Linked DNA regions of Homo sapiens. The protein of the gene in region 3 purifies or fractionates together with the protein of the main gene of each other region. This does not show direct contact. Each region holds a gene or a part of one and is shown on either strand. Other genes may lie near its edges. The genes, in order: TRIM25, TARS1, TPD52L2, INPPL1, CTH, GABPA and PPM1G.

Region 1 (3,500 bases), on a different chromosome or scaffold from region 3:
CAGATTTTTACCCTTTTTCAGAGCTGCAGCACCAGTTTTATTGCAGCAGTTATGGTTTCATTAGATGAGATCTAGGTTAGAATACCAGCTCTGTCACATACTAGTTTATGTTGCTTTGGTCATGTTGACAGATCTTTGAACCTTCGTTTCCCAATTTGCACAATGGAATCACAAGTTCTTTCTGAAGATGACTGTGAGACAAATGAAAGAATGCACGTGAAAGTACCTGTATTTGTTAGAGGGCAGGCTATACTGCTGTAACAAAGATACACCAGAATTCAGAGGCTTAAATATGATTGAAGTTTATTTTACCAACTGACAGTCCAAACCCACACATGAGTAACCCAGACTAAGGGTTCATGTGATCATTCAGGGATTAAGGGTTCTCCCTTCTTATTACCCTACTATTCCACAAGGTATTGTCCCAGCCTCTTTGGTTGAAGCTGGGTTACCATTACATCTTTGTTCTAGCCTGTGACAAAGGGACAAAAAGGAGGTGGAGGACAACAAGCAATTTTCCTTTACACAAGTGACACAGTGTTGCACATATCACTCCTGGGCATGGGTCACTGGAAGGAGTTTTGTCACATCGCCTAGTCTAGCTGCAGGGGAGGCTGGGAAATGTAGTCTGAGTAGCCACACGCCCAGATGAAACTCCAGGGATGTTCTCTTACCAAAAGGAAAAAAGGGAAAATGAACACTGGGGGACACTTGTAGTCACATTAGAAGTTGCACAGTGAAAGATTGGCAAAGAAGGCTGGGCGCAATGGCTCACGCCTGTAATCCCAGCACTTTGGGAGGCCGAGACGCATGGATCACCTGAGGTCAGCAGTTCAAGACCAGCCTGGCCAACATGGCGAAACCCCATCTCTACTAAAAATACAAAAAATTAGCCGGGCGTGGTGGTGCATGCCTATAGTTCCAGCTACTCAGGAGGCTGAGGTAGGATAATTACTTGAACCCGGGAGGCAGAGGTTGCAGTGAGCCGAGGTCATGTCATTGCACTTCAGCCTGGGTGACAAGAGTGAAACTTCATCTCAAAAAAAAAAAATATTGGCGAAGAAATACTTGAATTCCTCTTTTCCAGTCTACTGTCCTTCTTGTGTGTTTTTCTCTTTGTTATGTTTGATTCTGAGCTATTGTCTTAGTCTGTTTTCTGCTGCTATAACGGAATACCACAGACTGGGTATTTGCAAAGAAGAGAAGTTTATTTGGCTCAAAGTTCTGGAGCCTGAGAGGTCCAAGAGCATGCTTCCAGCATCTGGTGAGGATCATCCATAGCGGAAGGATGGAAGGCAGGAGAGCGGGACAGGAAGAAGGAGGTCAAACCCTGTGATAAGAATATGAATCCATTCATGAGGGCAGAGCCCTCGTGATCTAATCACCTCAGTGGCAATTAAATCTCAGCATGAGCTTTGGAGGAGACATTCAAACCATAGCAGCTATTGAGGCTACCCAAGATGTGAAACAAAATTGCAGCTACTAAAGCAGTGCTGTCCAGCAGAAATACAGTAGGAGTGCAGATGTCATTTTAAGTTAATTTGAATAGTACATGAGATTTATTGTATTTTATTTATCTATCTTTTTTAGGACAGGTCTCACTCTATCACCCAGGCTGGAGTGCAGTGGAACAATCATAGCTCACTGCAGCTTTGAACTCCTGGGCTCAAGTAATCTTCCTGACTGAGCCTACTCCCCTTCACCACCCCCACTCTCCAGGAATACAGTCCATCTAATTTTTTTATTTTTATTTTTGTAGAGAAACAGTCTGTCTATGTTGCCCAGGCTGGTCTTGAACTCCTGGCCTCAAGCGATCCTCCTGCCTCGGTCTCCCAAGGTGCTGGGATTATGAGCATGAATCACTGCACTTGACTGAGATTAATTTTAATATTATAGTTTATTTAATTTGGTATATCTTAAATATTATTCTTTCAACATATCATCAATTTAAAAGTTTTAAGATATTTTACATTCCTTTTTTTGGTGTGAAACCCTTGAAAGCCAGTATGTATTTTACACTCATGGCAAGTCTCAGTTTGGACTAACCACATTTCAAGTGCTCAGTAGCCACATGTAGCAAGTGGCTATGTTATTGGAAAGTACAATCCTAGAGCATGATATTCTCTAGAAATTTTCCAGAGCTGCATCCTGACTTTTTGTTTTGTTTTATTTTATTTTATTTTTTTGAGATAGCGTCTCGCTGTGTCTCCCAGGCTGGAGTGCAGTGGCACGATCTCGGCTCACTGTAACCTCTGCCTCCTGGGTTCAAGCGATTCTCCTCCCTCAGCCTCCTGAGTAGCTGGGACTACAGGTGCGCGCTGCCACAACCAGCTAATTTTTGTATTTTTAGTAGAGATGGGGTTTCACCATGTTGGCCAGAATGGTCTTGATCTCTTGCTGACTTTTATTTTTAAAAATTGCCCATGAACCACCTTTAGCTTAAGAAATAAAATATCATCGATGCAGCCCCTCCCATCTGTTTCTCCCTTATTCTATCCCTCTTCCTCTCTTCCAGAAGTAACCACTCTCCTGAATTTATTTATTCATTCCCATGCGTTTCTTTGTGCATATAGCCATTCTGTTTGTTTCTAAGCTTTATTGAAAGAGCATCATATGGTGGATCTTCTTCTGCAAGTTGTTTTTCTCTCATGGAGATTTATCCAGGCATAGCTCCAGTTTATTAATTTTCATAACTGTTTAATATTCCATCCTATGAATAGCTCCCAGTCTTTGCTTCAAGTCTTCTTCTGATGGATGTTCAGGTTGATTCCAGGTTTTTGCTACTTCAGACAATGCTGCCTGTGAACATTCTTATGCATGTCTCAGGGGCAGGTGGCTGCAATTTTTTGTAGCACATATTCCTAGGACTGGAGTTGCCGAGTCATAGCCTATGAGCACCTCCAAATTTATTAGATATTGCCAAGTTGCTCCCCACAGTGGTTTGTTCTCCCACAAAGTACAGGTAAGAGTTCCTGGAACTCCACATCTCACCCATGCTTGGGGCTGCAGCCTTAGCACTTTTGCCCCTTTGACGGGCATCCTCTTACCTTGGCCCTCTCAGATGACTGCAAACAGAAAGGTGGAGCAGCTACAACAAGAATACACGGAAATGAAGGCTCTCTTGGACGCCTCAGAGACCACCTCGACAAGGAAGATAAAGGAAGAGGAGAAGAGGGTCAACAGCAAGTTTGACACCATTTATCAGATTCTCCTCAAGAAGAAGAGTGAGATCCAGACCTTGAAGGAGGAGATTGAACAGAGCCTGACCAAGAGGGATGAGTTCGAGTTTCTGGAGGTAGGTCGCCACAAGGCATTGTTGAATGTTTTTTTTTTTTTTTTGCCTGATGTCATGCTGTTGATGATAGGGCCCTCAAGGAGCGGGAGACTGGAAGAGGTCACTGGAAGCATCCCTGAGACACACGCTGTATTAGTTTTCTGAGCTGGGCAACAACTTACCACAAATGTAGGGGCTTCAAAAAACACATATTTATTCTCTCAGA
Region 2 (3,500 bases), on a different chromosome or scaffold from region 3:
ATGACAAAACACGAGGACAAACATCTGTACACTGAAATCAAATGGCAGTACTTGGTTTTAAAGTAATCACTGGGATGAGTCAGAATACACCCAAAGCAATGTTTTCAAGATTTAGTATTAAGGTACCAAAGTGACATTAAAAAATTCTCGTAAGAAACTTGAGGGCTCCAAAATACATTTGAAAACCACTAATCCACATACATAAGTGAACAATCATCACTAAAACAAAATACTTTGTCTCCCCTTATATGATACACAGCCATGGAGAATTAAAAAGAAAATCTTGTCATCACATGCAGGTTGACTTTTATAGTGTTATCCAGCAGATTTGCATCTTAAGATGAGAAAAAAATACAGAAATTATCCAATAAAGGCAGTGCTTTGAAGTAAGGTTCAAATTTATTTGTCAAATGTACATATCTTGCTAGAGTGTTCATAGCTTAGAGGCCAGGCACAGTGGCTCACACCTATAATCCCAGCACTTTGGGGGGCCGAGGTGGGCAGATCACTTGAGGTCAGGAGTTCAAGACCAGCCTGGCCAACATGGTGAAACCCCATCTCTACTAAAAATACAAAAATTAGCCAAGTGTGGTAGTGCGCTCCTATAATCCCAGCTACTTGGGAGGCTGAGGCAGGAGAATAGCTTGAACCTGGGAGGTGGAGGTTGTACTGAGGCAAGAGCGCACCACTGCACTACAGTCTGAGTGACAAAGCAAGACTCCATCATTAAAAAAAAAAAAAATTAAAATAAAATAGTGTTCACAGTTTAGAAAACAATTTTTACTTGCTTAATCAATGTTTAATACAATTCCCAAAACATTTTCCCTATTGAAGTGTCTAGTAATGAAAAGACTTATTCAGCTTCACCCCTTTATTTTCTAAGGCAAGCACTTTTATTATGTTCCCTAAATGAAGGACAAAATGAAGATTTCAAATATGACAGTGAGACAACAATAAATGTTAGCCACCCAATCGCAGCAGGACTGAGCTGGAAAAGACTTCAAATGTGAATCTGCATCCTAAAATTCAATGAATACTAATCAGCAACTTACTGCCTGAGCTTCCTCATCCTCAAACTTGAGAAGCTCCAAGGTACAATCTTCTTCCAGAGGGCGGTCCAGGTCCCACACAACATTATTTACTTTAGCAATAACGGTGTTGTCGGCCAGGCCTTGACTTAAAAAAAAAAAAAAAAAAAAAAGTCCACACATATATAAGTACACACGAATCTAATTTGAAAACAGGAAAATAAACACTATTTTTATTATATATTGTTTTTTTATATTGATGTATCTCTATTTTTCTGAAATATAATGATAAAAACAACAAATTCCAAAAATGTACCTAAGAACCTAACTGGAAGATCCTGAAAATGCAGAACATTATCATTTGACATTGAATGCCTCCTGTTTAAGCAGATATGGCAACTCTGATAAATAAGCACTATCAATTTCCAATGGTTTGAATAATCTTAATTTCTCCAACAAATAAGTTTTTTTTTTTTTAATTTTTTAGCGACAGGGTCTTGCTATGTTGCGCAGGCTGGCCTCCTGGCCTGAAGCAATCCTCCAACATCAGCCTCTAGAGTAGCTGGGACAACTGGCACAAGTCACCACACCGAGTTTTCTCTTAATACACCCACCTTTCTCTTTCTACAAAGCTAAGCTATGTAGACTCCAAAGGAAAAAAAAAAGGCCTACTAAATAACTTCTCTGTTCCTCTTCCTGCTTAAAATGTACACCAGATCCTTTCTTTGACAGACAATGCTAACCTCAGAATAAATTCTGCAAATGCCTATGATAATATTTATAACAAATATAGAGGTAAAATGAAAGACTATTTAATAAAACTTTCCATATAATGTGAGTAAAAACATTACACACCCAATATACAACATCGAACATAAAGTATCATCAAGTGATGAAATATCAGAGCACACAGAGTGTAAAAGCTACAGGAGTTCTGAGGAGGGAAAGCAGTACAGGTCAGAGTCATCTGGAAAGGCTTTGAGGATAAAGCACTCACAGGAAGAAAAGAGGAGGCCATGGCATTCCAGATGAGGGAATGGCCACAGATGCAAGCAGAGATGCAAGTGAAGAGAGGTTTTTGCAGGAAGCTGTGTGACTAGAGCAGAGTTGAGTAGGTGAGCCAGATTATACATCTAAATGCACAGCTAGAGAAATAATAGTCTATAACAGCCTGGACATCTCAACGAAGGTAGGCAACATTCTACACTGTGAAGAAAAAGTATACACCCTTTACACTGTAAATCTCAAAGAAACCTACCACTAGAAGGCTTTAAGCTAGCCAGGCTTGCTGTGTTGGTGGCTCTCTATGTCTAAGGGTTTACAACAAAATGTATACAACTCCTATCTGAGGATCAAGAGAAAAGAACCAAACAGAAAGTAAACAACAAACTCCTTTCTATTTTCAATGCTCCTACTAACTTTACCATAGGTTATAAACAATGTTTTCTTTCCTCCTGAGATCAGATGGAGTCAATAAAATAAATACATGCATTTCACAAAACATAACATGAATTTGGCAGAGAGAAATGTATTTCATCATATTGGTGTAAAACAGTTTTCAGGAGATTAAAGAACTGATAAAAAGGATAATCATATTCTCTATATTCTTTGGGAAGAACATGACTTTTATCTTATGATCCAATATGGAGCCCCAAGATTCTAAGAATAGAGTTACTCTGAAAATGTAGATTACACATGGGCCATACTGGATCATTTCAATTTTTCAAAGAAGGGTAAAATAATCTTTAAGATTTGTAACAAAACGGCCAGGCGCAGTGGCTCACGCCTGTAATCCCAGCACTTTGGGAGGCCGAGGCGGGTGGATCACGAGGTCAGGAGATCAAGACCATCCTGGCTAACACAGTGAAACCCCGTCTCTACTAAAAATACAAAAATTAGGCAGGCGTGGTGGCGGGCGCCTGTAATCCCAGCTACTCAGGAGGCCGAGGCAGGAGAATGGCGTCAACCCAGGAAGCGGAGCTTGCAGTGAGCCAAGATGGCGCCAATGCACTCCAGCCTGGGCGACAGAGCGAGACTCCTCCGTCTCAAAAAAAAAAAAAAAAGATTTATAACAAAACTTCAAAGAAAAACCTTTTGACGCAAATGGAACATGTCTTTTTTGTCCTTCCCTTTCATATTCACCACTAATTATGTGAATCTTTAAATAGCCTGTTATCAATGTTATAATTTTTCACAGAACAAAAAGTTATTCTGGACTTTTGTAAAAATTTCATAAAGTATTCTCAGTGCAGATCAGTGACTTAACTCCAGAGCTAAAGCCCATCAATGTTTTATGTAATTCAACCTTTTATTTTTTTCCCTGGAGACGGACTCTCGCTCTGTCACCAAGGCTGGAGTGCAGTGGCTCAATCTTGGCTCACTGCAACCTCCACCTCCCGAGTTCAAGCTATCCTCCCACCTCAGCCTCCAAGTAGTTGGGACTACAGGTGTGCGCCACCATGACTGGCTAAT
Region 3 (3,500 bases):
TGCCCTGACCGGCCCATGCGTGCAAGTTTCCCTTTCCTCTTCCCAAATGAGACTGTGCTGAGGGGAGAAAATGCAAGCTCAACCACGTCTGTGGGGAACGAGCGTCACAGAGTGGCCATGCAGCCCGCAAGGTGCCCCTGCTCCAGACGGCGGGGCCCCGTGTGCCTTCAGAACATCGGACAGTTCCATTCCCAGGCCTCTTTTCACAGTGCAAGGGTCTGTCCTGGCCCCTAGTGAAGGCCCCGCTTCTATCCCCTCCAGCTCCCTCCAGTGTCCACCCACATGGGTACATCCCATCAAAGCAAAGCTCTAGGGCCTTGGCGTCTGCAGGACAGGCAAAGGGCAGCAGGCAGGATGCTGTGGCTGCAGGGATACTGTTGGGCCCACCATGACAGTCAACACCTGAAGTCGCTGGCCCTCATCCAGCTGCCACCATAAACACAAAACACAGCAGACTCTGACATAACAAAGTCCAAAATGCGAACCCACAGCCACCTTATCACGGCTCCTCCCTCAGTGAAGCCAGGGAACTCGAGGCTGAATGGAGATGGGCTCCCAGGACCATCTTGGCGTTACCAGTGCCAACCTGGAGAGCTGGCAAACCCAGCCAAGCCCTGAGTGGCATCTGGGATGACTGGCGCCAGAGAAGGCACAGGCTCCTCCTGCTCCCACTGGCGGCACCAGGTCCCAATGATGGGCCTTCCGGAGCCCTTACTCACAGGCCCTCCCACCACTCCCTGCAGAAGGCCCGTGTGAGCTGAGTGCTACTACTCTCCAGCCCCCAAACAGTTGACAAGAGTGTGTGACCCACCAAGTGTGCCCTGGCAGCGCATCCCAGCGCAGCTCTCTCATGCCCGCCCCCGGCCCAAGGCCTACCAGAGGATGCACTTTCTTTCTTTTTTTTTTTTTTGAGACAAAGTCTCGCTCTGTCACTCAGGCTGGGGGGCAGTGGTGCAATTTCAGCTCACTACAACCTCCGCCTCCGGGTTCAAGAGATTCTCCTGCCTCAGCGTCCCAAGTAGCTGGGATTACAGGCACCCACCACCACGCCCTGCTAAATTTGTCTTTTTAGTACAGATAGCGTTTCACCATGTTGGCCAGGCTGGTCTTGAACTCCTGACCTCAGGTGATCCACCCGCCTCGGCCTCCCGCAGTGCTGGGATGACAGGTGTGAGCCACTGCGCCCAGCCCGCTCGGATGACAGGTGTGAGCCACCGTGCTCAGCCCAGAGGATGCACTTTCCCATCCAGGCTCCGTGCAGCTGGAATCATGGCTGTTTTTAAATTTTTTCTTCTTTTATTAATAAAACACCAGTTATAAGTAACTAATGACCTGCTATATTTAGTTTCAAAAACACAAATTCTTTTTTTTTTTTTTTTGAGACAGAGTCTTGCTCTGTAGCCCAGGCTGGAGTGCAGCAGCACCATCTCGGCTCACTGCAAGCTCTGCCTCACGGGTGCACGCCATTCTCCTGCCTCAGCCTCCCGAGTAGCTGGGACTACAGGCGCCCGCCACCACATCCGGCTAATTTTTTTGTATTTTTGGTACAGACGGAGTTTCACCGTGTTAGCCAGGATGGTCTCGATCTCCTGACCTCGTGATCCGCCTGCCTCAGCCTCCAAAAGTGTTGGGATTACAGGTGTGAGCCACCGTGCCCAGCCCAAAAATACAAATTCTGAAGACATCTTTAACCTTGATTTTCCCTGAAATAACAAATGCATAAAACCATGTGAACATTCTGTGGTTCGCTGAAGCAAAGTCACCTGCAGCAGAGGATTCTAAAGCGCTCACAGCACCTGCATTTGTGCCTAAAGAGTGGGGATGGGGAAGCTGCACCTGCATTTGTGCCCTAAGAGTGGGGATGGGGAAGCTGCACCTGCATTTGTGCCTAAAGAGTGGGGATGGGGAAGCTGCACCTGCATTTGTGCCCTAAGAGTGGGGATGGGGAAGCTGCACCTGCATTTGTGCCTAAAGAGTGGGGATGGGGAAGCTGCACCTGCATTTGTGCCCTAAGAGTGGGGATGGGGAAGCTGCACCTGCATTTGTGCCCTAAGAGTGGGGATGGGGAAGCTGCACCTGCATTTGTGCCTAAAGAGTGGGGATGGGGAAGCTGCACCTGCATTTGTGCCCTAAGAGTGGGGATGGGAAAGCTGCACCTGCATTTGTGCCTAAAGAGTGGGGATGGGGAAGCTGCACCTGCATTTGTGCCTAAAGAGTGGGGATGGGGAAGCTGCACCTGCATTTGTGCCCTAAGAGTGGGGATGGGGAAGCTGCACCTGCATTTGTGCCTAAAGAGTGGGGATGGGGAAGCTGCACCTGCATTTGTGCCTAAAGAGTGGGGATGGGGAAGCTGCACCTGCATTTGTGCCCTAAGAGTGGGGATGGGGAAGCTGCACCTGCATTTGTGCCCTAAGAGTGGGGATGGGGAAGCTGCACCTGCATTTGTGCCCTAAGAGTGGGGATGGGAAAGCTGCACCTGCATTTGTGCCCTAAGAGTGGGGATGGGAAAGCTGCACCTGCATTTGTGCCTAAAGAGTGGGGATGGGGAAGCTGCACCTGCATTTGTGCCCTAAGAGTGGGGATGGGGAAGCTGCACCTGCATTTGTGCCCTAAGAGTGGGGATGGGGAAGCTACACCTGCATTTGTGCCTAAAGAGTGGGCATGGGGAAGCTACACCTGCATTTGTGCCCTAAGAGTGGGGATGGGGAAACCGAAGTTGGAGAGAAAACAACCGCCTGTGCCCGGCCTTCAGAATGAGATGTGGGGTCCTGAGCGTGACCTGTGGGTGGGTAAGTACCACCCACACAAGGAGGATCGGAATGAGATGCGGGTCCTGAGCGTGACCTGTGGGTGGGTAAATGCCACCCACACAAGGAGGAGGGTCCTGAGGGTTCCTGGCCACTGACCACTGGCCACTGACACCCGGTGCCACTGTGATCAGTCCCTGCTGTGCCATAAACCACACTCAAGCCCCTGGGGGCCCCACAGCCCTCAGCATTGCTCGGGTGTGGAAATGAGGGGGTCACAAGGGAACCTCCTCTAGAAACAGGAACCTCCAAACTGGGATGGCCCTGGAAACAATGGGCATCACCTGCATAGCCTGAGGCCACCACCAGCGCCTCCCTGGCCTTCTCTTCCTACAGCAGGTCCCTGCCCAACAGCTGTGGCTCTGACCTCTCCCTTCCCCTTCTCAGTCCCATCCTGGGCCTCCAAGGTGGCGGCAGCAGCTGTGAGGCCCCCTTCCAAGGCTCACAGCGCTGCAGGCCTGTTCTGAGAGCGTCAAACACACAGGCACACACATTCCTCAGTGGACCAGAAGGCTGGGTTGTTATTACTCCATGACAGATGGGGAAGCTGAGCCCGGGAGGAAGGGGCAGGGGTCAGAGCCAGCATCTGCACCCAATAACTAGCTTCAGCTCTCCTTGAGAGCACCGGGCCGGGCAACCCCAGCCAGCACCCATTTGGGAGTTCCTAAGACCTTCTAGGAAGAGAGCCCTGGA
Region 4 (3,500 bases), on a different chromosome or scaffold from region 3:
ATACACACACACACACACACACACACACACACACTCTCTCTCTCTCTCTCTGCTGGCCCCACACTCCCTCCCAGGCAGGCTCTCCAATAAACTCTTATGTACCCCTCTCTGTGCCCTCACCCATAAGCAGGGGCCCTGCCCACAGCCTCACCGTGGGCAGCTGGCGTGAAGACCACTGCACTTTGAGGAAGTTGATGTTGTCACTGCTCTGGGCATCATTCTCAAAGCTCTTCTTGTATTCTGGGGTGGGGGTGGGAGACACCCAACTGAGCACCACCTCTCAGCTTCCTTTCCCCCTAAGTAGGGGGCTGACTGCACCCTCTTGCCTCCCATCCTCCTTGGCCCACACCCAGCCCCTGCCACGCCTCTGACCCTCCAGGCAGGTAGAGTAGAACTCGATGAAGAACTTGGTGCGGCTGGCTGTCTTCACAATGGCCTCGATGCTCTCAAACTCAATGTAGGCCTGGTCTGAAGTCTTTGAGAGCCCTGAGGAGAAAGGGAGGAGAACAAACAGGAGGACTGAGAGGATCACAGGAGGAATGGGACAGAGAAACAGGGCCCTGGGACAGGAAATCAGGGGTCCAGAGCAAGGAGGCAGGGCCAGGAGGGGCCTCCCCAGTCCCAAGCCACCAACAGGGAATCTCCAGAGGCCAGACCCTGGACCAGAGCAAAGAGACAACCCAAGGATAAAAAACCCATTGAAGAGGGTGCTGGGGACCAGAATGCCTGCAGGATTCCCACACCTACAGGCATACTCAGGGACACACACGTGGCCCTAGACAGACACAGACACATAGATAGGTGTACACTCACGTATGCACACACACTCATGGGCACACAACTCTTGTGATGGCCCAGGCGCACAGACACCCTGACACATCACACCTTGAGAAACACTCCTGCACTCACTGGTACACACACCCACACACACACTTACATAGTCAAACCTATGTACATCCCGAGGCCACCACCTGTGCCCACCTAGATTATGCCACACCCACAAGCATATCTGGAACAGTCACCTTTCTTGGAGATGAACTGGGAGGTAACTCCAACCTCAAATGTCCCAAACACGGGGGAATGGTCGCTGGTGACGATGTCATCAGTGCAACCTGGGGAGAGGGGATAGGAATGGGGACTCAGGGGGAATATTCCCACCCTCGGCTCCCACCTCCCAAGGTTAGGGCAGAGTCCAGATGGTGACCACCCCAGATCTCCCATCACTCTGTCCGGGAGGCTCTGACCATAAGAATTGCAGATGATGTGAGTTTCAGGGTAGGATTTCCACAGAATCCGGTCACACCATGAGGGCACATTGGTCCGGACCTGGGGCAGGGGATGGCAGCATGGTTAGAGCTGACAGCTAGGAGGCTGCTTGGCATGGACCCCACTCCAGAGCTGATGAGTCCCCACACTTCTATTACTAGAGGCCCTAGCACCCACCTCCCTTCTTGGATCCTCAAAATACCCAGGATCACCCAAAGGCCTCAGAGGGGCCATGGAGGCTGGAGTGGAAGCTGCAGAGGCCCATACCCTTGACCCAAATTCTTGATTCATCGCAGGCCTGCGGTCCCCCAAGGCCCATGCCGTTTTCTTGGCTCACCCCAGTTGGCTTCTGCTTGTGCCAGGCATATGTGTCCCGGGAACCCCGCTCATAGCGGTAGGTGGGTGGGAAGGAGATCTCCTCCTCACCTAAGGAAAGCAGGAGACAGGTGGGGTTCAGGGCCCTGACACCCAGGGATACTGCAAGTCTCCTAGCCCTCAGATCACCACCTACCAGGCCCACACTCACTGAATCGAAGGAAGACCTTGTGCTTCTCCCGCTCCAGGTTGAGCTGGTCCACCCTGAGGAGGGGCTCAAACTCTTTCCTGCTGATGTAGTTCAGGATCTCCTGGGGTGGAGGACACAAAGGCTAGAAACATTCCTCCGGAGCCAGAGCCAGGGGTGATAGCCCATGTGGCCCTTAGCCTCCCTACAGCCATGGCAGGGCCCTGCTCGCACCTGGATATCCATGTCCAGGCGGTAGTTGAGGTCCCCAAACCAGAAGAGGTGTGTGAAACGCAGAGAGATGTCAAAGGCATTGAGCTGCCGGTCGCCCAGCGAGAGCAGCCGCAGGATGTCCAAGTAGTTTTGGTTCCTCCTAGGGTGAGGGGTGCGTGGTGGGGAGGGGTAGATCCCCAGGGTCAGGGCCAGAAGTCAGGGATAGGCATAAAGGGAAGAAGTCTCAGGAGTCAGGGATGGGGTAAAGATCCGGGCCCCTGGGGACAAGGTTAGGGTCAGGAACAGAAGGGTCTTGAATTGGGATAAGAGAGCAGGGGGTCTCTGGAGACAGGCCTGCGGGAGGGTCATGGGCTAGGGTATGGGAGCGGGAACAGGCCTCAGGTGAATGGGATGGGTGTAAAGAGACCATGGGAAAGGCGCCCCCTCACCGAGCCGTCTTCTCATTTCCCGAGGTGAGGTGACAATTCACAAAGCCAAATGAGGTGCCATTAAACATGAAGGAGACGCCCACAGCCCCCTTGTTCCCTGTTAAGGCAAGCAAGAGAGGAAGGCCTGGGTCATCCTCAGAGGGCTCCCAACTCTCCCTTCTGCCTCTCAAAGCTGCAGTGAGAGGATCCTCCCGCTGAGCCCACCAGACGCTGTGACATGGGCAGGCCCCTGCACACACCCACACCTTCCCTGGGGGAGGGGGGGGTCCTCATTGGGCACACATGGTCTGTGTGGATGGCCTGAGTCTGTCTGTATGTGTGAGCAGAGCCCCTGGAGATCACAGGGGACCCCAAGGGTGAAGCTGAAAGGCCCTGCAGATTCTGCGCAGAATCTACCTGGGAGAGCACCAGACCGAAAATCAGGAGACCTGGGCACAATGCCTGGCTCCACCACTTACTTGCTGTGTGACCTTGGGCAGGTCACTCAACCACTCTGGGTTTGAGTTTTATCATCTGTGAAAAGGGGGTAATTATCCTGGCCTTGCCTTCCCAGTGGTGCTGGGAGAGATTTAGAATATGAATATGTTTTTCAAAGTTCAAAGTACCCTATATATGGGGAAACTAAGATCACCAAAAATGGGGCAATCCTAGGCTTGAGAGGAAGCAGAAGCCATGGACAGAGAGACGCTGCCACTCTTGGGCACCTGCCAGCCCCACTTACCCAGGGTGTTGGCGATGCCAGTCTTCACACTGGACGTACTGACATGGCTGATACGGTTCTCGTGCTCTGGCTTGACCAGCACTGCCACCTTGATATTCCACAGTGATTGCATGGCAATCTGGGTAGAGAGTGCATGGTCACCACTGCCCTGCTGCACCCACTGCCTGCATTTCCCCCTGCACTATAAATAGACTTTTGTGTCCATCACAGGGTAGGAAGGCTTGCCACCCCTCTTCCTGACGGACTGGAGAGAAATGGTTCCTCTCGTGGCATGAAGGACTCAGGTCAGATCTCCCAAAGGATATGCTCAGGGACCAGAGAAAAAGCCAGTGAAGCTGTGCTCCCAGGG
Region 5 (3,500 bases), on a different chromosome or scaffold from region 3:
ACCTTGTATTTCTTTGAAAAATTATTTTAACATACAGAGAAAAACAGCAGTTCAAGTCCTATTATTACTGAATATTCTACTAATATTCTATTTAGCCTTTGTGCAAAGCGGTCAATGATTTCACATGCCTCCAGGATATATACTTCATTTCTACTTTTTATAAACCAAAGGACACTTATCAAGCAATAAGTTTCAGTTTCCCTTGTGGAGGACATTTTTATTCCTAATCATGTTTATATTTTACCTGTCAAGTTACAATGGCTTAATCTTTAACTATACTGGAGATAAACTAAGCAATGTAAATAGGAAATGGTGTTTAGACATCTATTGAAAAATGTAAGTTTATACTGTAAGTGCTATTTAAAATTAACCATCATTCGTGATATAAAAGGTATAGTATATGAAAGCCCTCATTTCAAATGTAATTTTAAAAAAGAAAAAAAAACCATTAAGTCTTGAAACTAAAAATTCACTAGGGCTTTATCAAATTATGATTATAATTAAGATGGACATGAAAATAAAAAAACTCATTTCTTATATCATATCATAAAGCCTTGCTATGCTATAACCGTTTTTGTTTTTTGTTTTTTGAGACAGGATCTCACTCTGTTGCCCAGGCTGGATTGCAGTGGCACGATGTCAGCTCACTGCAACCTTCGCCTCCCAGGCTCAGGTAATCCTCCTGCCTCAGCCTCTGAGTATCTGGGACCACAGGCACATGCCACTGCACCTGGCTAATTGGTTTGTATTTTTGGTAAAGACAGGGTTTTGCCATGTTGCTCAGGCCGATCTCAAACTCCTAAGCTCAAGTGATCCACCTGCCTCAGCCTCCCAATGTGCTGGGATTACAGGCATGAGCCACCGTGCCCAGCCTGCAATAACTATTTTTATAACACTTTCCTCTAAAATCAGAAAAAATTTTTTTGGCCAGGCACGGTGGCTCATGCCTGTAATCCCAACACTTTGGGAGGCCAAGGCAGGTGGATCACCTGAGGTCAGGAGTTTGAGACCAGCCTGGTCAACACGGTGAAACCCCGTCTCTACTAAAAATATAAAAAATTAGCTGGGCATGGTGGTGGGCACCTGTAATCCCAGCTACTCAGGAGGCTGAGGCAGGAGAATCGCTTGAACCCAGGAGGTGGAGGTTGCAGTGAGCTGAGATCACGCCACTTCACTCCCGCCTGGGCAACAGAGTGAAACTCCATCTCAAAAAAAAAAATTAATAAATAAAAAAAATCAGAATTTTTCTCCTCTATTTTTCATTTCTTCATAAATTATTAGAATGCCATCACTTCACATCACTTAGTGGAAATACAAATATCAAATGTAGTCACTGAGAGTGTCATAGGGAACCTGCACTTTTTAATACTTACAGTTTTGCAAGAAACGAAGTCTATTATGAAGGCTTTCACAATTAACAGACACCAGGCCCATTACAACATCACTGTGGCCTAAAAACAAAAAACAAACAAACAAACAAAAATTTCAGTTAGAAACAATTTATGTTTACTCTTTATTTTATAATTTTCAAAATGTGATTTTCACTTGAAAAAACTCTCAGGGAAAAAGCTCTATAAAATAAGTTTAAGTAACCTTTATTCAACTGGACAGTAGCAAAAGCTATGTCTAAAACAAGAAAATAAAAATTATATAAAAACAAAATGTTTCTTTAAGGTGTCAGCAAGATAAAAGCATAACTTTTTATGGCCAACTTTAATCCTCTTCTCATAAATCATGAGCATAGTTTTGTGTACTGTTAATGAAATCCTACATTTAATCAAAGGATTTTTTTTTTTACTCTCTCTATGAGTCACAGGAAATAATCTACAAAATAATCAAAGAAAAGGGATCAAAAGCCAAGCCCTATGCAATTTTCACCTATCCATGAAAAAGAACATTCAAAGTATGCATCTTACCATTCATGTATTTTGTTGCAGAATACATAGAAATATCAGCTCCCAGAGCCAAAGGGCGCTGAAAGAACAAGTTTTTTACTTTAAATGAGAAACAATTTGAAAATATGCTTCATTACCTGCCTATTTGCAATTATAAATTCCATTCTTATTCTAATCAATACTAACTTTGCAAAAGTATGTGCATCTTAAAATTTTCCAGGATCTCTGATATTATTTCTCCTTTGCCTCCCTCCCACCAAAGAAAAATGTAAAGTATTGAATCCAGTATTGAATCTGAAGGCAAAAGTTTCTTGGAAAGCGCAGATAAGCCCAGGTCAACTGGTCTCTTGAACCTGTTTCTTTATAGCAATTGCTGACAGGACTCTAAATTTATTACCTACAGTAGAGACTCTAGTATTTTATGACTCATTAAACACATAAAATAGTTGAAATGAACATTCAGCAATTTTTATGTAGAGTAAGTATAAACTCATCTGCTTAGATTTTTAATCATTAAAACCTCATGACGTATGCTGTGATTATTTACATTTGGGGTTTGTCATGATCTTGATTCCTAATTACTCAGCCCTTCCTATGTGTGGGTTTCACATCCATGGATTCAACCAACCATGGGTAAAAAAATACTTGGAAAAATAGATGAACAGTTGTGTCTGTATTGAACATGTACAGACTTTTTTCTTGTCATTAGTTCCTAAACAATATAGTGTAACAACCATTTATAAAGCATGTACATTGTATTAGGTATTACAAGAAATCTAGACGGCTGGGAGTTGGAGAATGGCTCACTCCTGTAATCCCAGCAATTTAGGGGGCTGAGGCAGAAGGATCACTTGAGATCAGGAGTTTCAGGCTGCAGTGGACCATGATCAAGCCGCTGCACTTCAGCCTGAGTGACAGAGCAAGACTTTATCTTAAAAAACAACAAGAAAGAAAGAAATTTGCTGGGTGCGGGGGCTCATACCTGTAATCCCAATACTTTGGGAGGCTGAGGTGGGTGGATCACTTGAGGCCATGAGTTTGAGCCCAGCCTGGCCAACATGGTGAAACCCTATCTCTACTAAAAATACAAAAAAATTAGCTGAGCATGGTGGCACGCACCTGTAATCCCAGCTACTCAGGAGGCTGAGGCAGGAGAATCACTTGAACCCAGGAGGCAGAGGTTGCAGTGAGCTTTTCATGACACCACTGCACTCCAGCCTGGGTGACAGAGCAAGATTCTGTCTCAAATAAATAAATAAATAAATAAATAAATATGTCTGAAACTGGGAGAATTAAGAAAAATAAAAATGAAAAGGAATTTTTAAAAGTGTTTTCTTTCACCCAATTTTCCTGTAAATTAATCCTTTAAGTCATGGAGTATAATGTGATGCTCAATACATGTGTAATTGTGTAATGATCAAAAGCAGGGTAATTAGCATGCCCATCATCTCAAATATTTATCATTTCTTTGTAGTAGAAACATTTAAAATCCTCTCTCCTATTTTGATATATACAGTATCTTATTGTAACTATGATCATCCTTTTGTGCAGTAGAACACCAAAACTTATTCCTCTATTCCTCCTTCTAATTGTAACTTTGTACCC
Region 6 (3,494 bases), on a different chromosome or scaffold from region 3:
TGCCTTCACACTGCAGACATTGTGGAGATCCTTTAACATACACATATTCTAAAATATATGCTCAAAGTAAAAAGATCCAAATTCACAAGAGTATGAAATATTTATAAAAAAATCATGCATCAGACTGTACAGCCTAGAAATAAAAGAAGATTCAAATTCAGTAATAAAGGTAAGAGCTATACTTGCTCTAAACATTTTAAGAAAGACTTTGGAGTCTCAGAATGTCCTGGGGCTCAATTATCCTTTTCCGTTTGCAGAGAAGCAGTAGCCAGAGCTACTGCTGTGACTGGCTGGGCAATTCCATGGAGCTGCATCTTTGCAAGTTTCTTCTGTTCACATTCTGTGACCAAACGGTTCAACTCCGCTGCACTGTATCCAATAAGAGTCTTCAAGTCACAGACAAACTTGTACACAAATCTCTTGCCTTGAACTTTACAAATCATGTCCCCATCGTAATAATATCTTCAAAAAGAGAAAAAAAAATTAGAGACTTCAGAAAAAATGAGACTTCTTACAATAATTTACAGACTATTCCATAAGCAGAAGCCTAGTAGAGTACTGCATCCGCCACAATAGCAATTAATATTGAAGCTATGTAGAATATTTAATGCTACTATCAAATGAAACATCCCAACATTATTTACTAAAATTTCAATGCTCACTACTCCAAAACTCTATACATTAAACTTTCAAAACATATTTTCAACAATTAGAATAAAACATTGATTTAAAAATAATTATTAAACAAAACAAAAAACCTTGAGAGCAGTAGAAGAGCCTAAGAACAAGAGCTTTGGAGTCAGAAAGCCAAGATTCAAAACCTAACATTTTTGAGACCACAGGAGTCATATTTTCTCAAAGCTTTTATTCCTCATCTATAAAGTGAGGTTAACAGTGCTTATACCCTCATATCATTGTTGAGGATTAAAGGGATAATCTTTGTAAAGTGCTTAGTATACAATGACTGGCACACAGCCCTCTACAAAATATAAGCTATGTTAATAAAAATCGATAATATAAAAAAAATTAATACATATATTCCACTTCTTTTCTGTCTTGTAAAGAATCCTATATGATGAAGTCATGTCTTCATCTTTATTATTTCACTATGTAAACGCTTTCCAAATTTCAGATAAATTATCCAAGCCCAATAGGGAGCTTTAAGTCTAAGGAAAAGGTCTAAAAGAAACAGAGGATACAGAAAAACAGGTAAAGGACATTGCAAAGAGACAATGTTTCTAAACGTACACAAGCAGAGTTCCGGCAATCATTCTAGAAATCTAGTTTACTGCTGCATTCTATAGAGATGCAAATGGAGCTGGATTTATGTTTCCTTTGGAAAACAGACTTTATTTAAACACACACTATGTATTGCTAATTCCAACAACAGGAAAAAGAGGCAAGTCAAGCTCTTTCCACGACTGGCAGATTGCAAAGCCCTTATTTTAAAATTGCACTGCCCACTGACAAAGGGCTATTATAAAAGAAACAACTATTTGCAAAAGTACCAGATATAAACTATCACATTTAGCAGGATAAAAGTCACTTGGCTTAATCAAGAGTCTATTAATGAAAGGACTGACCTATATACAGGAAATTGTCATCTTTCCCTAATTCCAGAATAGCAAAAGAAAAATAGTTATGTTTGATTTCCCAGTAAGAGATATAACACATTGGGCAGTCTTGTAGTTTCCATTTATGTCAATTACATTAGTACAGAATTTGGATTTCAGCTCATAAACCAACAATTCCTTGCCATCCAGTTAAAAATGCTATAGGCATATCAATTGCTTTAAAAAATTTCTACATTAATATGTAAGACTATACGTGGGGAAAAAAAGGAAAATGGAAAAGGAAAGAGGTTTTATAATTCTAGGAGGAAAATGGAGTTGGCATAATCATATTTCTTGGTAAGAGGTGATAAAAAAGAATATACACACATAAATTTGAATTTTACTGAATACTTCTTTTGATCTAGTAGATGCATCACACAACTGTATATAGTAGCATTTATTCCACTTGTTGCCTCCCTAAAATGAAAGATACACAATACCTGTATTTCATGGATATGATTTCTTTTCTTCCCTCTTTTTTTTTAAACTTGTATTTTTTTAAACTTTTTAATTGCAAATATATCACACAAACAAAAGGACACAGAAGTGAACAGTTCAGTGATTTATTACAAAGTGAACATTCACTCACCTGTTAAGTATCACTCAGGTCAAGAAACAGAACACTGCCAGCATCTAGAATCCCCTTTATGTCCCCTCCCAATCACTCCCCAAATCCTGGCTCTAAAAGGTAAACACAAGCCTGTATCATGATAGTAATTTGACTGCTTTTTCTTTATATTTTTATCACCCAAACATGCATCCCTAAATACTGAAATTTAATTTTCCTGTTTTTTGAACTTTACTAAATAAATGTAATCATACAGAATTTGGTCTTTTGGGTCTGGATTCTGTCACTGAACATTATGTTTGTGAGGTTCACTGGTCATTGTTTGTAGCAGGAGCTTAGTTTTCAAGAATGCAAGGTATTCTTGTATGAATATACCATAAATGATTCATTCACTCTACTGTTGATAGATATCTGGTTGTTTCTGGGGTTTGGATGTTATAAATAATCTGCTATGAACATGTGTATGGGCATAGAAGTACATCTCTGTTTGATGTGTATGAAACAGTTGCTTAGGGGAGCAACTGTTACAATTTACATTCCTATCAAAAGGGTAGAAGCATTCCCATTGCTCCATATCCTCAACAGAGCTTAGTTCTGGCAATCTTTTAAATTGTAGCCACTCTAGGGGGTGAGTTGTACCATTTAATTATGGTTTTCAATTGCATTACTCTGAATACTAATGAGGCCGTACACCTTTGCATATATTCATTGGCCATTTGGATAATCTCTAGCCTGAGGTGTCTATTCAAGTCTCTTGCCCATTAAAAAATTGATTTGTAAGAATTGGTTAGATATTCTAGATACTTCTGTCCGACATGTGTGGCTCTCTTAATAAGGCTTTCAACGAACAGAAATTCCTAATTTAAATATAGTCCAGTTTATTGATCTTTCCCTTTAGAATTAGTCCTTTTGATTCTGTTTAAATGTCTCCCTACCACCAGAAGTTATGAAAGTATTTCTAGATCCTTTTCTATTTTACTTTTTACATGTAGAGCTACAAGCTACATGGAATTGATTTTTGGTACGGCATAAGCAAGAGGTCAACTTTTACTTTTCCCCAGAGATGGAGAGTAAATTATCCCAGCACTGATTATTGAAAAGCAGGTCGTTTCCTCATATGTTTTCTCCCCACTGCCATTTCTTTAAATCAAATGCTTACATATTCCTGGTTCTATTTTGGCTCCCTATTCTACTGTATGGCCTATTTGTCTTGAGAAAATAGCATAACTGTCTTATTACTGTAACTTTAGAGTCAGTCTCAATATCCTGTGGGACAAGTCTTTCCACTTTGCTAATCTTCAGGTGTCCTGACT
Region 7 (3,500 bases), on a different chromosome or scaffold from region 3:
TCTGGTCAGCTACCTTATGGTGTGCCTCAATTTTATCCTCTGTGATGTGGAATTACAATATCCACCACATCCACATCATCACAGAACTGTTGTAATGATGCAAAACACATAAAAGCCCTTTGTAAACTGGAATTTGCTACATAAAAATATATATATATATACACACACACATACACATATATGTATATTCTGCTCTGAAATTTAGCACCCATTTCACATTTTTCTTTTTTGTTCTTTTTCTCAAAGAGGACCACCCACAATAAAGATTCGTCTTACACCTTGAGGTCTCAGTCCTGAGAACTATCGCACAATTACCCTCTCCTTCACTTCTTGGTGAGGCTTGGGATCTATATTATGATTTGGAACTGTTTCACCTTCCCTAAACACTTTAATTTGCCCCCTTTACATGTCTGCTCATAACCTTTACCCACACCTTTGCTTCTCTCTATCCCTTACTGAGACAGAGCCAAGTATTTCAACATGGTCTCTTAGAAATCTAGAAAAACTCACCCAACCTTGTATAACCCCACCAACTGATTTATGCCTGAATCAGAACTACTAAGTTTGCTAGTCATAAAATGTTATGAGATTGGCTAGGTGCGATGGCTCACACCTGTAATCCCAGCGCTCTGGGAAGGTAGGCAGGAGGACTGATTGAGATCAGGAGTTGGAGACCAGCCTAGGCAACATAGCAAGACCCCGCCTCTACAAAAAAATTTTAAAGTTAGCCAGGCATAGCAGCATGCACCTGCAGTCAGTCCTAACTACTCGGAACACTGAGGCAAGAGGACCACCTGAGCCCAGGAGGTGGAGGCTGCAGAAAGCTATGATGCACCACTGCACTCCAGCCTGGGTGACAGAGGGAGACCCCATCTCTAAAACAAAACAAAGTTATAGGATCACATTGACTGTGGTAATTACTTCATTTCAGCATCTTGTTTTCTTTTTTTTTTGAGATGGAGTCTCCCAGGCTGGAGTAGAGTGGCGCGATCTAGGCTCACCATATCCTCCACTTTCCAGGTTCAAGCAATTCTCCTGCCTCAGTCTCCTGAGTGGCTGAAATTACAGTGGGCACCTGCCACCACGCCCAGCCAATTTTTGTATTTTCAGTAGAGACGGGGCTTCACCATGTTGCCCAGGCTCTTCTCAAACTCCTGAGCTCAAGTGATCTGCCCAGCTCGGCCTCCCAAAACGCTGGGATTACAGGCGTGAGCCATTGCAACTGGCCAAACACAGAAATTATCCTCTCTTCCTAGATTAACATTTTTTCTTAAACTCCTGATCTCAAATCCTTCTCCTTCAAGGTCTTACTACACAGAGAATGTAATAACCTTAACAGCAATCCAAATAGCCGTTTTGGCAATGGCTCATGCATGTAATCTCAACATTTTGGGAGGTCAAGGCAGGAGGACTGCTTGAGGCCAGGAGTTCAAGCCTGGGCAACATAGTGAGACCTCATCTCAACAACAACAACAACATCCGTAAACAGCCATTCTGCAGACTTCATTTCCCCTAGCCATTATGTCAGATTAAACAGTACAAACCATGTCAGTTTTTTTTTTATTTTTCAATGTTTATTTTAGAATCACAGAATACATGTGTAAGTTTGTTAGAAAGGTATACTGTGTGATGCTGAGGTTTGGGGTATGACTGAACCCGTTTCCCAGGTGCTGGGTATAGTATCAAATAGGTAGTTTTTCAGCTGTTCCTCTGCCACACAACCCCCACCCCCACCCTGCCGCACCACCACCTCTAGTAGACCCATGTCTATTGTTGCCATCTTTACATCCATGTGTACTTGATGTTCAGCTCCCACTCTCACTGCGTGAGAACACGCAGTATTTGGTTTTCTGTTTCTGTGTTAGTTTGCTTAGGATAATGCCCTCCAGCTACATTCATGTTGTTGCAAAGACATTATTTCATTATTTTTAATGGGTGCATAGTATTCCATGATGGCTATGTACCATATTTTCTTTTCTTTTCTAGTCCGCCACTGATGGGCACATGAGTTGATTCAATGTTTTTGCTATTGTGAATGGTGCCACAATGAACATACAGGTACATATGTTCTTTTGGCAGAATGATTTATTTTCCTTTGGCCGTATATCCAGCCATCAGATTGCTGGGTCTAATGGTAGTTCCACTCTTAGTTCTCTGAGAAATCTCCAAACTGACTGTGCCTACGCTAAATTAATTTACACCTTCACCAACAGTGTACAAGTGTCTGCTTTCCTCTGCAGCCTCACCAACGTTTCTCATTTTTTGACATTTTAACAAAAGCTGTTCTGACTGGTGTGAGATGGTATCTCTTTGTGGTTCTAATTTGCATTTGTCTGATGATTAGAAATGGGCGTTTTTTCATGTTTGTGGGCCACATGTACGTCTTTTGAGAAGTATCTGTTCATGTCCTTTGCCCACTTTTTAAGGGGGTTATTTGCTTTTTGCTTGTTAGGTTCCTTATAGATTTTGGATATTAGACTTTTGTTGGATGTATACTTTGTGAATATTTTCTCCCATTCTATAGGTTGTTTACCCCCTTGATAGTTTCTCTTGCTGCATGTCACTTTTCTTGAAAGATCTCTTGGATTCTGTGTAGTTCTATACCTCTGACTGCCTGTTTCTACAGGATGTTCTTTTTTTCTTTCTTTTTTTTTTTTTTGAGACAGAGTCTAGCTCTGTTGCCAGGGTGGAGTGCAGTGGCGCGATCTCGGCTCATCACAACCTCTGCCTCTCGGGTTCAAGCAATTCTCCTGCCTCAGCCTCCTGAGTAGCTGGGATAACAGGCACGCGCCGCCACGCCCAGCTAATTTTTGTATTTTTAGTAGAGACGGGGTTTCACCATGTTGGCCAGGATGGTCTCGATCTCCTGGACCTCGTGATCTGCCCACCTTGGCCTCCCAAAGTGCTGGGATTACGGGTGTGAGCCACTGCACCCGGCCAGGATGTTCTTTCTCTCTATACCTCAAACTTAACACATGTAATCAGGAAATCAGCAGTCTGCAAAAAAAAAAAAATCAAGAGCTTCCCCTACAGGTCTTATTTCTGTAAATGGAATCTTAACTCTCCCAGACAACACTTAATACCAGAGTCATGCTTAACTTCCTGGCTGTCTTCCACCATCCATCACTGAGTCCTGCATGCAGTCCTTCATCATGTTGTTGTTCCTGGATTACTTTGTTTTGTTGGTTTGTTTTGTTTTTTTTTTTTTTTTTTTTTTTTGAGAGAGAGAATGTCTCCCTGTCACCCAGGCTGGAGTACAGTGGCATGATCTCAGCTTACTACAACCTCCGCAGCCCAGGTTCAAGTGATTCTCATGCCTCAGCCTCCCAAGTAGCCGGGATTACAGGTGTGTGCCACCATGACTGGCTAGTTTTTATATTTTTAGTAGACACGGGGTTTCACCATGTTGCCCAGGCTGGTCTCAAACTCCCGACCTCAGGTGATCCTCCCGCCTCAGCCTCCCAAAGTGCTGAGATTTAGGCATGAGCCACTACGCCAGC

Evidence for each region.
Region 1: the proteins of TPD52L2 (region 3) and TRIM25 fractionate together in Homo sapiens (co-fractionation; one large-scale study listed by BioGRID). This does not show direct contact.
Region 2: the proteins of TPD52L2 (region 3) and TARS1 fractionate together in Homo sapiens (co-fractionation; one large-scale study listed by BioGRID). This does not show direct contact.
Region 4: the proteins of TPD52L2 (region 3) and INPPL1 purify together in Homo sapiens (affinity purification with mass spectrometry; 2 studies listed by BioGRID and IntAct, with this or other methods). This does not show direct contact.
Region 5: the proteins of TPD52L2 (region 3) and CTH fractionate together in Homo sapiens (co-fractionation; one large-scale study listed by BioGRID). This does not show direct contact.
Region 6: the proteins of TPD52L2 (region 3) and GABPA purify together in Homo sapiens (affinity purification with mass spectrometry; 2 studies listed by BioGRID and IntAct, with this or other methods). This does not show direct contact.
Region 7: the proteins of TPD52L2 (region 3) and PPM1G fractionate together in Homo sapiens (co-fractionation; one large-scale study listed by BioGRID). This does not show direct contact.

What each region holds. Positions count from the first base shown.
Region 1 is NC_000017.11:56,904,050-56,907,549, reverse strand, and holds part of TRIM25 (E3 ubiquitin/ISG15 ligase TRIM25), read left to right. Parts: intron 1-3,061; coding exon 3,062-3,295; intron 3,296-3,500.
Region 2 is NC_000005.10:33,450,965-33,454,464, reverse strand, and holds part of TARS1 (threonine--tRNA ligase 1, cytoplasmic), read right to left. Parts: intron 2,125-3,500; coding exon of another isoform or gene 2,026-2,124; intron 1,177-2,025; coding exon 1,053-1,176; intron 1-1,052. UniProt on the Homo sapiens protein: Catalyzes the attachment of threonine to tRNA(Thr) in a two-step reaction: threonine is first activated by ATP to form Thr-AMP and then transferred to the acceptor end of tRNA(Thr).
Region 3 is NC_000020.11:63,878,770-63,882,269, reverse strand, and holds part of TPD52L2 (tumor protein D54), read right to left. Parts: intron 1-3,500.
Region 4 is NC_000011.10:72,231,267-72,234,766, reverse strand, and holds part of INPPL1 (phosphatidylinositol 3,4,5-trisphosphate 5-phosphatase 2), read right to left. Parts: intron 3,270-3,500; coding exon 3,152-3,269; intron 2,528-3,151; coding exon 2,431-2,527; intron 2,142-2,430; coding exon 2,003-2,141; intron 1,893-2,002; coding exon 1,793-1,892; intron 1,693-1,792; coding exon 1,604-1,692; intron 1,327-1,603; coding exon 1,245-1,326; intron 1,113-1,244; coding exon 1,023-1,112; intron 487-1,022; coding exon 373-486; intron 241-372; coding exon 152-240; intron 1-151. UniProt on the Homo sapiens protein: Phosphatidylinositol (PtdIns) phosphatase that specifically hydrolyzes the 5-phosphate of phosphatidylinositol-3,4,5-trisphosphate (PtdIns(3,4,5)P3) to produce PtdIns(3,4)P2, thereby negatively regulating the PI3K (phosphoinositide 3-kinase) pathways.
Region 5 is NC_000001.11:70,428,268-70,431,767, reverse strand, and holds part of CTH (cystathionine gamma-lyase), read right to left. Parts: intron 1,975-3,500; coding exon 1,917-1,974; intron 1,452-1,916; coding exon 1,374-1,451; intron 1-1,373. UniProt on the Homo sapiens protein: Catalyzes the last step in the trans-sulfuration pathway from L-methionine to L-cysteine in a pyridoxal-5'-phosphate (PLP)-dependent manner, which consists on cleaving the L,L-cystathionine molecule into L-cysteine, ammonia and 2-oxobutanoate.
Region 6 is NC_000021.9:25,765,972-25,769,465, reverse strand, and holds part of GABPA (GA-binding protein alpha chain), read right to left. Parts: intron 463-3,494; coding exon 234-462; 3' UTR 1-233.
Region 7 is NC_000002.12:27,389,092-27,392,591, forward strand, and holds part of PPM1G (protein phosphatase 1G), read right to left. Parts: intron 1-3,500.